Regions from separate parts of the Homo sapiens genome. Here region 2 is linked to region 1. The links come from fine-mapping of genetic effects on gene expression. A gene starts in region 1. The other region holds a variant in brackets. All regions are shown on one strand. Distances are from middle to middle.

The links. PIP is the estimated chance that this variant, and not a neighbour inherited with it, causes the effect.
Region 2: its variant is fine-mapped to the expression of ERBIN in tibial nerve (GTEx, PIP 0.98).

The regions. Positions count from the first base shown.
Region 1 is chr5:65,923,293-65,931,626 of GRCh38, reverse strand. It overlaps ERBIN (erbb2 interacting protein), which reads right to left and starts at 5,052. Exons shown (of 26, transcript NM_001253697.2): 1 at 4,821-5,052. RefSeq lists enhancers at 4,899-5,118, 5,079-5,703, 6,609-6,828, 6,328-6,952 and a silencer at 5,199-6,288.
Region 2 is chr5:65,798,083-65,806,416 of GRCh38, reverse strand. All of the region lies in intron 9 of NLN (neurolysin), which reads right to left. Among named protein-coding and RNA genes, the nearest start is that of NLN, 80 kb to the right of the region's middle. The variant G/C (reference allele first, on the strand shown) is at 4,786.

The sequences.
Region 1 (8,334 bases):
GCTATTTATTTTAGAAAACAATTATATTTTTATTAAAACAATGTTACACTAACATGCAATAGCTTATTTTCAAATAAATTAATTTTTTTTAATTTCTGTTTTGAGTCAAACCAAAAAGTCTGAGAACAGCTGCCTTAGGACTATTACTATTTCTTGTAATTATACCATATTATAACAGAGTGAATCCTCCTACAGGGAAATGAAATGTACAAGGCACTTAGCCTCAAAGTAAGTTGTCCCAGATTATTTTCTAAGTTATTCAGTCATCTTTCCATTTTTCTATTGCTTCACTGTAACACCACAGGTCATAACTTCACAATGCTGTAAACGTACCTTTCTCACGCCTTCTGGGATACCAAAGAACCAAAAACAGCTCATTATGTACATAAGTAAATGGGCTCTGAATAATAATGGCCCTAAAAGTGAAGTCCCCAGACTCTGTCATACCTGTTGTGATTAAGGAGATGTCATTTTTTATTTTCTAGTTTTTCTACTACATTCAATATGCTTTTAAAGCTATAATAAATAACCTCCAGATAAGTAGAGTCTTATTAAGTGAATTTTTAGATATTCTCCTTTTCTATCGTCTTCCACAAAGTGAATTTTTAGATATTCTCCTTTTCTATCGTCTTCCACACTATCACTTAAAGCCTGGCAAGACCTTCATTCAATGGTGTCTGGAACAAAATTTGAAGTGACAAAAATAGAGTGATAGAGTACTATTGTGCTTATTTCATGAAATCAAAGAAAGATAATTTCAAAATTTTAGGGATTCTGTGTCAGAGAAGACATCTAACTTGAAAGGTAGGACAGAAGAGGAAGGTACAGAGAAGAAGGAACAGAGAAATATATCTGTATGTTTTAAGAGGCCAAAAGTATAATAAAACAAGAAGGTAGAGAGGGTTACAAAGTCTTAATACATAAGAATAAATAACAACCTGGTATTATCTTAACAGTCAATTTTAAGAACACTAAAGAGAAAAAGGAAAACTGAGAAAACAAAGTATAAAACAAACAATGGCCGGGAGCGGTGGCTCATGCCTGTAATCCCAGCACTTTGAGAGGCCGAGGTGGGCAGATCACGAGGTCAGGAGATAAAGACCATCCTGGCTAACACGGTGAAACCGCGTCTCTACTAAAAATACAAAAAAATTAGCCGGGCACAGTGGCGGGCGCCTCTAGTCCCAGCTACTCGGGAGGCTGAGGCAGGAGAATGGCGTGAACCTGGGGGAGGCGCAGCTTGCAGTGGGCCAAAATCTTGCCACTGCACTCCAGCCTGGGCGACAGAGCAAGACTCCATCTCAAAATAAACAAAGCAATATACTGATGAATATAAAGTTAAAATACCAGCATGTACACTTAGTTGAAATGCAAAGGGGATATTCAGAATTAAATGGGCTAATAAAATAAGATCAGATAAACTTTTTCCACTGCATGTTTTGAACAGTTTTTTGAGGTGATAAACATAGACTAACAGTTTGGAAAAGAGGGAAATGGCAAAATATAATTAAGAACGACCAACTGAACACAGAGAAAATAAGGCTAGGTAAATGAAGCTAACTATAAATATAGGAAGCTAAGGGAATCAGAAGAGAAAGCTGAATAGCAGCTAAGTTTCTTTTTTACAATTAGGAAACCTAAGAAGAGACAGCTAAAAAGTGAATCTGAAAAATGGGAGTTAGCAGTAGGCCGGGCTCAGTGGCTCACACCTGTAATCCCAGCACTTCGGTAGGCCAAGGTGGGCAGATCACCTGAGGTCGGGAGTTCGAGACCAGCCTGGCCAACATGGCAAAACCTGTCTCTACTAAAAATACAAAAATTAGCTAGGCATGATGATGTGCGCTTGTAATCCCAGCTACTTGGGAGGCTGAAGCAGGAGAATCGCTGGAACCCGGGAGGTGGAGGTTGTGGTGAGTCGAGATTGTGCCACTGCACTCCAGCCTAGGCAACAGAGCAAGACTCCATCTCGAAAAAAAAAAAAAAAAAAAAGAGGAAAAGACAAAGACATCTTTAGAGGTTTATAATAGAGATGTATTCCCAGAAAAAGAAAACGGAAGCAAGCATGTAACAAATTCAAGAAATGAATGAGCAAGGCAAAGAGTCAAAATGCAAGCAGCCAAGTAGGGTATGTAAGGAGAATCTGGATAAGCAGCAATTACGAAAAATAAAAAAGAAACTGCTACCCAGCATCACTAAAATTCTGCATAATCCCAAATACTCTGTAAGTACTGCCATAATCTATTTCCAAAACAAAAGCAGCTTAAAGTCTAAATCGTATTATCCGTAAGCAATTATTTCAAATAAGTAATTTTGAAATATACACCTATTTTCTGAAACTTTTAACTATTTCTTAAAGGGTATTATTTACTACTAATAGTGCAATACCAACAATGTGTAAAATAATCGATTTTTGAGATTTGCCAATGATATATGTTAATGTATCTATAGTTATCACTTCATTAAGAAACAGCATACAATAAAAATTTGGTTTCCATGTTTGTACCTCTGTAAGCTTTTTATACATAAAGTTTACAATAGTTTGATCTCAAATGGCAAGGAGACCTCGTAACAGTACTACTTGAATCAGTTGAAGTCCTGAAAATTCATGATTACCTTCAATAAACAGAGCCTTTAAGTGTGTATTTTGTGCAATATAGACTTTGGAAGTACTCTCTATTTGCCAATTTAATCTTTGAAAATCCACACCATACTAGAAGAATATCCAAATTTTGAAGCCATTTAAAAATATTTTAACGGATGACTCCTCTATTAACCTCTTTTCAAACCTTTGTCACAGTTTAAACAAAGCTTCGAAAATACTTATAGTTTCACAATAGTATAAAACCTAAAATTTAAGTTAATTCGGTGATAAACTAACAGAATTCCAAGAAAACTACGAAGTAAATTATGCCTTGTTGAGGAGAAAAAAAAGAAACACAAAGGTGAACACCTCACTTCATAAAACGTGTTGTCTGCATCGAAACATACTACTCTTCTCCTGAGAAAAAAAATCAAGAACTAAATCTAAAAATAGAGGCTTAAATAGTCATTTTCAAGTGCTACAATACTTTTTTTATACAAAATTTACTAATAAATAACCATCTTCATAAAGCGATAATTCTCTGTAAGGGACTTGCTCTATTAAGGTTTTGTTGCTTTTGAAGCCAAGTATAAGCCATATAAGGAAACTGAAGTTCAATGCCATTTATTTTGTTCACCTCTTTCAGATGCCCAAGAATAACCTCTTTTGCAGCCTAATGATACGTTCCAAAATCATAAAGTAGATGAGTTATGCACTTTAAATTCTTTGATAAAGCTAGTTTGACTTAACAAGAATTATTCCATGGTTCACAAATCTTACCAACAATGAAAAAAAAAAAGAATCTCCTGAGACCATGCCCCGGGGAGGAAAAAAAAAATCAAAACTACAGTAATAAATAAAGGACTGCCTTTGGAGATGTACTTAATGAAGCTGAAGTAGCAAAGAACAAATTGTGAAATAATTTGATCCTGATCTTTAAAACTTATTTTTTCTCTTTGAACTAAAGAAAATCAACTCTCTCCTCGGGTTTCCGGTCATTACGTGAGACAGCATAGGCAATCTAAACATCAATATATATTTAGGATATACCTACCAACAGGATTACCAAATTTATTCAATATATATTCAAAAGTACAGTATTGTATTTCACCTCCCTGTACCGCAAAAATACCGGGAAAAAAAGTAAACAGAAAAAGACTAAAACACCACTGAAAAAAACTTTGGGTTTACTGCTATCAAAACTAGTCCCCATTGGTTCAGAAGTGTTCATAGCTCTGACTGGTGGAATGTCTGCCATGCTTCATGAATCCTGCCCCCACAGATGTAGGCAGAACCTATCACTATTTATGCAGAACCGACCAAAAACATTTGGGACAACACAAAAATGTAAAGACCATACTACTCGAAAAGCACAGCTTTTTATCACAATCACTGTGATTCCCTTGAAAATCGTTTTAAGCGTTTTACTTCCCCTCCCATCGTCTGTTCTGAACTGTACAGAAGTCCTATTAAACGTCTTACAGGTTGTTAATGTTGTTTAATTATCTCTCCCTATTCTTAGTCCTTACTCCTTTTTTCTTCGTAATGGATCAGTTACAAGAAAAGCCTAGTCGATCCTTGCTTTCAATTAATTAAACAAGTTATACGGCGCTAAACGTCTGAAAAACACACACTACACACAACTAAAGAAATATATTACTCACCCTGAAAAACAACTAAGAATGGCAAGATTTTTTGGTTTCTAAAATCTAACTAAATATACTGATCAGGGTTGGAAATAAAAAAATAAAAATAAATACCTCTATATACAATTAACGCAAGCGCCAATATAATCGGTATGAGTATAAACAAACGCGGCAGCCATCTCAATAACAGCAAATCACTCACTGCAGCGACCAAACTTTCTTCCCAAACAGAAGGTGCCTGGCTGAGCAACTTAATATACACTCTATACGTTCCAGAAAGCCAAAACTTCTGGCCCCTGTGCTGAACAAAGGCAATCGTTCTTCGGATTACTAAAAACTTTTCGTCCCACCGCATTCTTACAACCTCTTCCAAAAAATTCAAAGTCCAGATGGTGGGGGGGGCAGGGGGGAGAAGGGACGCGGTGGGGTGCAGTTCGATTATTTAGCCCCTCAATTATTAACCGCTTCGATATGAGAAAAGGAGGGTTTAGGGCAACTTGGAGAAGAGTGAAAAACACTAAAGAATCATCTCTTTTCCGAGTCACAAAGTCCCATGAACTTTGTGACTCAGAGACACTTTTCGTGAAAATTACCTTTCGGCGGGACACCGTCTCAGGGCAGCTTTTTCAAGGCTTCGCTTGACATGATTTCCTTCCCTTCATCAGTCACTTTGGATCCAGCTGAATATCTCTCTCGGGTGAGAGCGGATGTGGACTGGCCTCCCACAGAAGAAGAGTAGGTGGCTTTGGTGGGGGTTGGGGTGCGGGCTGGCTTCCTGGTCTCGAGTTTTGCAGGAGTTTCCCAGCCCCAACGAGGATCTCCGCCGAAAAAAAAAAAAACAAAACTTTTCACTCGTGACACCGCCCGGAATTGCAGTGCGAAACTCACTTCCTGCCTTGGCGAGAAGCAGGATCCAGCTCCGTCCAGGGGAACCCGGAAAACCAGCTCCGCGCGCACCGGAGAGGGGGAGGGGAGGGGACGGCCGCCGGGAGCCTCGGGTTCCGGGCAACCGGCGCGCCCGGCACACCGGACGGCAGCAGCACCCGGCCGGCGGGGGCGAGGACGCTGCCCGGGCGCTCGGCGAGCCTCGGCCGCGCTAGGCCGCCACCGCTTCCTCTCCGTTGCCCCCAGAGCCGGGCGGCAGGGTTATTGTCTCGATAGCGCTTGCCGCGCCCTTCGTCCGCGACGCCGCTGCCGCCGCCACCCGGAGCCGGAGCCGAGGAGTCGGGCAGGCTCAATAGCGGCCCCCTCCCCGGGCCGTCCGTCGGGCCGTCCGTCCTTCCGTCCGTCCCTCCCCGCTTTCCCTACTCGCCCTCGAACCCTCTTCTCCTCCCTCTCCCGTTTTCCCGCCACCGTCCCTCCGCTGCCCTGCTTGTTCTCCTTCGCCAGCGGCGGTGGCTCCCCGAGACGCGCAGGGGGCGGGAGCAGGAGGCAGCTCCGTCTCCTCACGAGCTTGCGGGGCCGCGGCAGGGGCCGAGACTGCGTCCCGCGCCGCCGCGCCACATTCACTCGAGCGAGAGACGGCGAGGGGAGGGAGGACGGAGGGAGCGGAGAGAAAGGAGGAGGAATGGGGCAGGGGCGGAGGGGAGTTACTGCCTCACAGGCCGCGGCGGCAACAGCGCCACCGCCCCGGCCGCGACGGGTGAAGAGGCTGCGCGCCGCGACTCTGCGGCGGGGGCGGGGGCGGGGCGGCCTCCCGCCGGCTTCGCCCCAACCGCCAACAGCCGGGCAGGAGGCCTGCGCGGGCCAGTCAGCGCGCGGGGGCGGTGCGGGCCGACGTCGGCGGCTGGGGGCAGCGGGCCGGGGGCCGGGGGAGGGGCAGCCGGCGGCCGTGGGTTCGCGTGCAAGGCGCGCCGTGAGGCCCACTCTGGCCCAGGCCCCTCGAGGCCTGCCCGCTGCTCCCTGCCCGCTCCCCGACCCCGCACTCCCGGACTCCCGAGCCCCCCAGGGTGGGGAACGCTGGCAACGCCGACCCTGCTGTCTGCTCGCGGCCCAGCGCCCAGCCAGAGAGATAGAGAGCCCACAGGCCTCCGCCGCGCCGGCCGATGGAGTTTCTTTGTACGACAGTAATCGGTGCACAGGGGTTGTTGGAGTCCAGCCCTGATTTGAAGGCAGCAGGTATCTCTTGCAGCTGCAGCACTCCAACTTCCTCTAATGGCACGGTCAGGTCGCAGGAAACCACAGCGGCAGCGCGGTGCAGCTTCCCACGCCCGCCCTTCGAGCTTGTTCCCCAGCGGCGCAGCTCAGCCTCCTCCAAGTCTCAGCCTCATACCGGCGGGGAGACAAAGCTGGCGCTGGGAGTGGGAAAAGGGCCCGCGAAATGGCCTCAAGATCGTGCCTTTGTTAGAAGAAACATGGGTACGCTCCGATGCGACGCAGGCTTCCAACCCCAGCGGTTCGGTGGTGGTGCAGTCGTTGAATTGCGCTGGCCCTAATAATTCAGCCTGGCAGGGTTCGCGTTTATTGCGGAGAGAGACTCTTAAGCATTCTGTCAACACATATGGCAAATAGAAAGCCTCAACCATAACATTGCACAGTTTTTGCAGTTCTTGCTTTAAATATGTTCACAGAAAAGACGGCCTTGTTTTACCCAGAGAAGGAGCGTAATGCGGAGCGAACCATTCGTCACCCCCATTCTCTGCTGCACTTAACTGTGTACAGTGATGATAATTAGCCTCTGGGTCCCTGAAGTCCCTGGTTCAGTTCTTCCGTCTGTATTCTAGAGATAATTATTTATTACCAAGTTTGAATAAAGAGCTATATCCCCTACAGACCTTTTTTTTTTTTTTTTTTTTGGCTTGCCAATGGAAAGAGTTCATAAATTCCACCAAGTAATCATTTACCAAAATGAGTTGTACATTAGTTGCAAACACTTGAAATAACGCCGAAGATATTCAAGTCATTTTATTCAGGTTGGGAGCATTTTTAACTACTTGAAGAACTGCTGGAATTAATACAGATGTTAGGTTATTTAGCATACAGCAGAAGTTGAAGATTTACAGGTAGTACTGAAGTGTTCAGATATATTCAGTGCTGAATTAGAGGTAAGAGTATTCGCTGGAAGCTAGGAAATGGCAGCAGCTATGCCAGTGTTACCAAGCTGGATATCTATGTGAAAATGAATCTTAACCATTGCATAAAAAGCTAAAGTTAGCATATTGTACAAGCTATTTGTAATCATCGCTGGGAAGATTTCTTGCTCCGTTTTCAAAAACCGTTTTGCGCCTGATCAGAACTCAGTGGCATAGCTCTGAACTGAAAGGGTCACTCTCCTAAAGCATCCCAGGATGGAATATCTCCCATACTAGTGGAAAACCAGCTAGATTCTGGGATTCCAGTGTTGCTTCTAATCTCAGGTTGATTCGAGACCCCTTTAAATGTGATGCCATAGATTCGAGTAAACCTAACCCTCCTCTCTAAACTTAACTGATCAAGCCACTGCTTTAGGCTAAGACTTGCCCTGGTCCTAGCCTTTTTAAAATTTATACTCACACTCAGGACCAATCTGACAGACTACCATCTAGGCTAGAAAAGTACCTATAATCAAAAACCCTCCAACTCACCTGAAATTCTGCCATTAGAGTTTTATCCCTTTAAGTAGTTTTTTTCTCTAGCACAAAACCATAATCCTGGGAAAAGTAATATTTTAATCCTTATTAGTCATTTATACCTAATTCATCAGATTGTTTCCCCAAAGCAGCTTTTGTTGGAAGGGAAAAATAGAGATAACTAGAGATAACATATGCTGAGGCTGAGTTGATAGGAGACGGAAATATAGTCTCATTCCTTGGAGCGTTATATAGAGAGTAGAGGATTACAGGCAATAAAAGGACCCTTTTGATGGCTAAATAAGTCCTGCTTACTCATACTGTAAGAATGAGCCACCTAATACACTGGCCTTAAGAGGATGGAATCTGGCCGGTTGCAGTGGCTCGCACCTGTAATCCCAGCACTTTGGAGGCTGAGGCGGGAGGATTGCTTGAGCCTAGGGGTTCAAGATCAGCCTGGACAACATGGTGAGACCTTGTCTCTACAAAACCAAGAAAGGAGGATGGAATCCAGGATACACTTGTCAATACAGTTGACCCTTGAATAATATGGAATTTA
Region 2 (8,334 bases), 130 kb after region 1:
TTAATGTTGATATTTTGATCTCTTCCCATGAATCATGCATGTTCTTAATGGCATTTGGAATGGTGAATCCTTTCCAGAAGGTTGTCAATGTACTTTGCCAAGATCCCTCAGAGAAATTACTATATATGGCAGCTGTAGTCTTATGAAATGTATTTCTCATAATAATAAGACTTGAAAGTTGAAATTACTCCTCGATCCATGGACAGCAGAATGGCTGTTGTGTTAGCAGGCATGAAAACAACATAATCTTCTGGAACATCTCCATCCAAGCTCTTGTCTGACCAGGTGCTTTGTCAAGGAGTGGTAATATTTTGAAAGGAATCTTTTTTTTTTGAGTAGTAGATCTCAACAGTGGCTTAAAATAGTCAGTAAACCATGCTGTAAACAGATGTGTTGTCATCCAGGCTTTGTTGTTTCATTTATAGGGCACAGGCAGAGTGGATTCAGCATAATTCTTAAGGGCTCTAGAATTTTCAGAATGGTAAATAAGCATTGGCTTCAACTTCAAGTCACCAGCTGCATTAACTCCTAAGAGGAGAGTCAGCCTGTCCCTTGAAGCTTTCAAGCCAGGCATTGACATCTCTCTAGCATTCCTGAAAGTCCTAGACGGCATCTTCTACCAATAGAAGGCTATTTCATCTACATGGAAGATCTGTCATTTAGTGTAGCCACATTCATCAATGATCTTAACTAGATCTTCTGGATAACTTGCCACAGCTTCTAAATCAGCAATTGCTGCTTCACCTTGCACTTTTATGTTATGGAAACAGCTTCTTTCTTTAAAACTCATGAACCAACCTCTGCTACCTTCCAACTTTTCTTCTGCAGCTTCCTCACTTCTCTCAGCTTCATAGAATGGGAGTTAGGGTCTTGCTCTGGATTAGACTTTGTCTTAAGGGAATGTTGTAGCTGGTTTCATCTTCTACCCAGACCACTAAAACTTTCTCCACTCAGCAACAAGTCTATTTTGCTTTCTTATTATTTGTGTGTTCATTGGAGTAGCACTTGTAATAACTTTCAGGAACTTTTTCCTTTGTTTCATAACTTGACTGACTGGCACAAGAGGCCTATCTCATCTTTTGACATGCCTCCCTCGTGAAGTTTGATCATTTCTAGCTTTTGATTTAAAGCAAAAGACTTATGACTCTTCCTTTCACTTGAACACTTACAGATCATTGTAGGGTTATTGACTAATCTAATTTCAACATTGTTGAGTCTCAGATAGGAGGCCAAAAGAGGGGGTGAGAAATGGGAAATGGCCGGTGGAGCAGTCAGTATACATATAACATTCATCAATTAAGTTCACTCTCTTATAAAGAGCATGATTTGTGTTGCCTCAAAACAATTGCAATAGTAATATCAAAGATTGCTGGTCACAATAACAGATATAAAAATAATGGAAAAGTCTGAAATACTGTGAGAATTACAAAAATGTGACATAGAGACATGAAGGGAGCACATTCTGTTGGAAAAATTGCACTGACAGACTTGCCTGGGCAACATGGCAAGACCCTGTCTCTATTTCATAAAAAAGGAAATCACTGATCACAGATCACCATAACAGACACAATAACAATGAAAAAATTGTCCGGGTGTGGTAGCTCACATCTGTAATCCCAGAACTTCAGAAGGCCGAGGTAGGCAGATCATTTGAGGCCAGGAGATCAAGATCAGCTTGGCCCACACGGTGAACCCATGTCTACTAAAAATACAAAAAAAAATTAGCTGGGTGTGGTGGTATGTGCCTGTAATCCCAGCTACTTAGGAGGCTGAGACAGGAGATTGCTTGAACCCAGGAGGTGGAGGTTGCAGTGAGCTGAGACTGCACCACTGGACTCCAACCTGAGCAACAGGGTGTGACTCCATCAAAAACAAAGAAAAAAGTGAAATATTGTGAGAATCCCAAAACGTGAACAGAGACAAGAAGTAAGCACATGCTGTTGGAAAAACAGCACTAACACACTTGTTTAAAGCATGGTTGACATAAACCTTCAATTTGTAAAAAACAAAATATCTGTGAAGTACAATAAGTGAAGGACAATAAAATGAGGTGTGCTCATATCATGGGCTCTTTACATGGATTATCTGATTTAAATCCCAAAATAATTGTATGAAGTAACTATTATCTCCCTTTTTGAGATAAGGAAACTAAAGCATACAGAGATTAATGATGTAACTTCAATTTGAAACCAGGCAGTCTGACTTCATAACCCACAATCTTAACCACAAATGCTAACTGTCTCCGTATCTTAGAGTAAAATGGAAAAAAAAGGTTAAATGATATTACAAAATGACTAAATCCTCTTGGATGGGATCTAAAATACAAAAGTCTTATATCAAACCCTCCTTTATGTGAAGAGTTAAAGTGAGTTTTCAGTGTGCTTCCTTAGAAATTTGACTTCTTCTTTATACTGGAAGATTTTTCAAAGATCAAACATGAAGCTGAAGTGTAAAGACCAGCCTTTGTAACCATCTATCCTGAACTTGCGATTCTGCAATACTACTGATGGCAGTGGTGGCCCATCTCGGCTGCAGTGGGGGAAGCGTGGCTGGGGCTGTGCGCTCCATGGAGCTGGCAGGAGCCAGGAACAGGCAGAAAAGTCCTTCCCCCTTCTAAGTTGGCAGGGCAAGAGCCTCACCCTCCTGGGCATAGCTGCAGCTGCCCAAGCTGTGGCTGCTGACCCAGGTATGCCTGTGCTCTTGGGGGCCAGGAGCAGGCAGGAGCCCTACCCTCCTGGGCACAGCTGCGGTTTCCTAAGCCATAGATGCAGACCTGGGCATCCCTGTACTCTTAGGGGCTGGAAGAAGGCAGGAGCCCCACCCTCCTGGGTGTAGCTACAGCTACCCAGCCATGGCTGCGGACCCAGGCATCTCTGTACTCTCAGGGGCCCCGGAAGCTCCCCCAACCCATTAGCGGCACCTGCTCTGATCTTGGAGCAAAGCTGAGGTCAATCCCAGGCACTGTCACAACCTGGCCAGGTGTCCATATGCTCAGGACAGCACTGACATGCCAGCCCCTTGCTGCCTCAGCCCCTACTGAACTTTGGGCACTGACGAGCATGGGAGGGAAGCTGAGGGGGGAACTGAGCGTGGCTTGGCACTGGCCTGCAGGTGCCCCTCTGCATGAACAGCCTGGGCACCATAAACAGTGGTAGCAGGCAGACAGGTTCCTGGGCAGAAAGGGGTGGGTCCCTGGTGAAGCCCCACCTTCAAGCCAGGGAAGGCCTGAAGCCTGGGGGCCAGGCTGCCAGTCCTGCAGACCAGAGTGGGAACTTATGGTGCTTTTGCCAGGCCCACCCATAAGCCAATCAGCCTGCACGTTCTCCCCTCTGAAGCCCATAAAAACACTGGACTCAGCCAGACTTGAGCTGATGTCAGGACAACCAGCTGCAGAGAGGAGCTACCCACTCCAGGGTCTCCTCTCTGCTGACAGCTGAGCAGACATCGGGACGATCAGCTGTAAAGAGGAGCTACATATCCCAGGGTCTCCTCTATACTGAAAGTTGAAAAGATGGTGGGACAAACCAGCTGCGGAGAGGAACTACCCACCCCAGGGTCTCTTCTCTGCTGAGAGCTGAACCCTCTACAGGATGACCTACCTGTGGAGAGGAGCTATCCACTCCAGGGTCTACTCTCTGCTGATAGCTGAACACTCACATTGGTACACCCTGGTTGTGGAGAGGAGCTACCCATTGTGCGTCTCCTCTAAGCTGTTCTATTGCTCAGTAAAGCTCCTCTTTGCCTTGCTCACCCTCCACTTGTTCGTATACCTCCTTCTTCCTGGGCACGGGACAGGAACTCGGGACCTGCCGAATGGTGGGGCCTAAAGGGCTATAACACAAACAGGGCTGAAACATGCCCCTTGCTCGCCATGCTGTGGGCAACAAGGAGAGAAGAGTTGTGGCCCTTCAGGGAACCCAGACCTAGGAGCTCCCTGAGCTAGGGCTGTGATACCTTCTTTGGGGCTATGTGGTTCCCAGCGTCTCTAAGCTTCTGGGTGCCACTGTGTTCCCCAGTGCCAGCTGTGAAAGCTGCTTGTGGTACGCCTGGTCCGGCTGCAGCCTTGCAGGCAGCCTTGCCTCCAGCGCCTGTGCTGGCACCTGGAGCTGCTTGCACCGCCATAGCCAGCATGCCTGGCTGTGTGCAGTGGCTGGACCCCATGCTTGCTCACTCATGCACCCCTTGCCACTCCACTTGCCCTTGGCAGGCATGGGATCCAGGCCAGTAGTGCGAGCTGAGTGCAGCCTGCCAGGCTGAGTGGGCCCAGTGGGCCCAAGCAAAACCTGGGCAAAGGTACCACTGGTCACAGAGGTTTCTGGCTGGTGATGCGACACCCCAAGGATCCCGTGACACTACTGCACAATTTTCTCAAGGTGATGGTTTTTAAATAGGTACTAACAGCAAATAAAGGCCAAATCACACCATCAGCCACCACCATATGATATACTGACAAAAATACAGACTTTGTATATCCTGCTTGTATGAAGATTTTTCAGTCATTAGTTGCATATGAGGGAGGAAGTCAACCCCAAATGACAACAAAAATGTGTGTATGTGTGTTTGTGTGTGTAGGGGAGGATTCAATATCCAGAAAAAAAATACACAAATGATAATTCATGAGCTAGAGTAAAAACTGAATAAAATAAGAACACAGTTAATGTCATGCAGAGTAGAGAAGAGAGCGCTTATTCTATTCAAAAGCCATTTTGTAGCTGGGGAGACAGCACAGCAAATGAATGAAAGATCAACAATGTCTTCTAAAGAACAAAAGGAAATGTTTGTAAG[G/C]AGAAAAAGCTAAAAATAACCCTAGTGCTTACTAATTTCCCGAAAGTTGGTCATGCTGTTTCTCTGTGAGCCCTTTGGGCAACATCATTTAAATATTTTTCAAAAAAGGAGGACAAAGAACCTACAAAATTTGAAAGCTCAATTTGCAGCAAACAACCGAATTCTCAAGAGAAAGGAATGCAGTCAGCCACTGTGTATGTCCACACAGAAACCATGGGTAAGACTCACAATCTAGCAGCCTAATGGATCTTATACAAAACAGCATGGGTGCTGAACCATTACTCACTGTTGACCAGCCAACAAATACCATTCCCCAGTTTTTAAACTATAATCCAAAGAACCCTAAAAAAGTACTTCATATAGTTATCAATGCAAACAATTTGAAGGTGTTGGTAATAGTTGCTTATGGGCCATGATAACTATTGATGCTAATGTATTTCCCAGATAAAGCAGTAAAAAACACACAAAATAATCCAATTAACAAATATTTTTTGTAGCTGACACTTCAAAGAGTTTTAGGGCATTTTTTTTGCTGCAGGAAATATTTAGATAACAAAAGCCTAGAAAACAATGTAAACTTAGATTCCTGTTTGGTTAGAAGTTCTTGAGAGGAAGACAGTTGTCTAAATACACGATTTTGGCCAGGCACAGTGGCTCATGCCTGTAATTCCAGCACTTTGAGACGTAGAAGCAGGAGAATTGATTGAGCTCAGGAGTTCAAGATCAGCCTGGGCAACATTGTGAAACCCCATCTCTACAAAAACTATAAAAAAATTAGCTGGGCATGGTGGTGCATTCCTGTAGTCTCAGCTACTCAGGAGTCTGAGATGGGAGGATCGCTTGAGCCTGGAAGGTGGAGGCTGAGGCTGCAGTGAGCCATGATCATGCCACTGCACTCCAGCCTGGGCAACAGAGTGAGACCCTGCCTCAAAATAAATAAATAAATAAATAAATAAATAAATAAATAAGAGAGTTTTCTTCACTATCCAAGCTAGAGTGCAGTGGCAGAATCTCAGCTCACTGCAAGCTCCGCCTCCTGGGTTCACGCCATTCTCCTGCCTCCCGAGTAGCTGGGGCTACAGGCGCCCGCCACCATGTCCAGCTAATTTTTTGTATTTTTAGTAGAGATGGGGTTTCACCGTGTTAGCCAGGATGGTCTCGATCTCCTGACCTCGTGATCTGCCCGCCTCTGCCTCCCAAAGTGCTGGGATTATAGGCATGAGCCACCATGCCTGGCTGTCTTTACTATCTTTTAAACAAACAATAGGATGTCTAAAATGTACTCTGTTTCAGATTTTTACAACAGATAACTTGATGCTATAGAGATTAACTTTGCAATTCCTACAGTGCAATAAGAACAGGAACAGAATCATATAAATTGAAGCTTCGGAAGTCCTATGAGCTTCTGCTGTATTTAAAGGCCTAAATCTTACATGTGACTGTTCTAATTAAGAGAACAGTTGCTTTTAATGGCTACAACTAAGTGTTATTTCCATGATAGCAAATCCCAACTCAAAGAAAAGGCAGTTGCTGAAATCAATAAGTGTATTGTGCTCATGAAAAAGGACAGGCCTCAGGAGACCTGACATTGGCTGTCTGAGGTGATCCAGTACTGATTTCTTAGCAGTCATTCCACATCCTGGCCTGTCTAATCTATCCCTAAATCCAGGGATGATGGAGAAGTTTATATAACAAGGCAAGGTATTTTTTTTTTAAAGTGACCACTATCTACTAGACTTTGCCATAAACAGATGATTAAAAGGCCATAGTTTTAACTTCACACATACCGAGTGATCACTGGAAATAATAGTAATAAAGATAATGTGTTGACATCCTTCTTTATCTTCACAACTGCCCTATAGTTCAACAGTTCAGTATCACCATCATCCTTTAAAGGACCCAGGAAATAACATAATTTGGAGAAGTTTTGAATACTGCATATTAAGTTCACAGGCTTGCTCCCAAACTAGCTGTACCTTCCTGATCAGGTACATCTTATTTAAACTGCTTCTTTTTAAGATGAAAACAAATAAAGGTACTATTCAAACTCAAATGCTAGAGAGTATGCTTTATTCACCACTGTATTTCCAAAATCCAGCACAGAAAGTAGAGGATGTCCAATAAATATCTGTGAAATGGATGAAGCCCTGGGGAGAATATTTCTGTATGAAGATTCAAACTTAAACAACTCAAAGATATTTTCCCTTGTTATCATTCTTGACCTCAACCTCTCACCTCTCTACTTTTTTTCAATACTTAAAATTCTACTTTTATTATTTTACTTAATATTATGCTTTTAATTTTTTATTTGTTGCACTTCATGTCCTCAAGCTAAATTCTGAACATTCAAGATACTATAACTTTTCTTTCTTTTGAACCCCATCCTACCATAGGTAATATGACATGTCAGACACATAGTCAATAATTCTGTTTCTTAAAATAACTATATAGGCTGGGCATGGTGGCTCACACCTGTAATCCCAGCATTTTGGGAGGCTGACTTGGGCAGATTGCTTGAGCCCAGGAATTCAAGATCAGCCTGGGCAACATGGTGAAACCCTATCTCTACAAAAAATACAAAAATTACCCTGGTGTAGTGGTACATGCCTGTGGTCCCAGCTACTTAGGAAGCTGAGGTGGGAGGATCAACTGAGCCTGGAGAGGTGGAGGCTACAGTGAGCCATGATTGTGCCACTGCACTCCAGCCTGAGTGACAGAGTGAGACCCTGTCTCCAAAAACAAACAAACAAAAAACTAAACATCCCTCTCTTTAAAAAATATTTTGATTTTTAAAAAATAATACATGTAGAAAATGCACTAAGCAAATGAAAGAAATAAGCACATTCCCAAATAAACATTATGCATTAATACATTCATATTTTGGTTTATGACTTCATTTATTTTATTTACACATGTATGTATTGTTTATATATGTATAAGCAAACAAATAAAATAACAAAAAGAAGATCTTGAAAGAAATTACATCTGATGTTAAAGTCACAAACTAAAACAGTGTGCAGGAGTTGGGGCTAGGGAGACAGGGTGACAGCAGAGGCCACAAAGCTGATGATAGGGAGTTCACTGCATTTTAGGACTGAAACCTCAACAGTCAACTCACACAGAGGGAAACCTAGAAATAAATAAATGCATTCATTCCACATTTGCATTCATTCTACATTATTAGAGTGTCATTTAATAAACTTAGGAGAAGGAAGCCCATCCAACACATTTGGAAGACCAAATTCAGACCATGAATAATAGTATTGTCTCCAGTGCATGGAATGGGAGCGCAAATACGCAATAAAGTAGAGCAGTTAGGTCATGACTATTGGACCCTGGGCAGGTCCTTCTATGTCTCAGATTTTTCATTTGGAAAATGGGGACAATAACAGTACCCATCTACTTCAGAGCGTACTGTGAAGATAAAAATGAATGAATGTAAAGCAGTGTGTATATTTCCTGGCACCTGGTACATGTTCAGTAAGTCTCAGCTGCCTATCTTCTTCTGAGCCTGCATATTCTGCCTGACTAGGTATGGTCTTGGCTGGT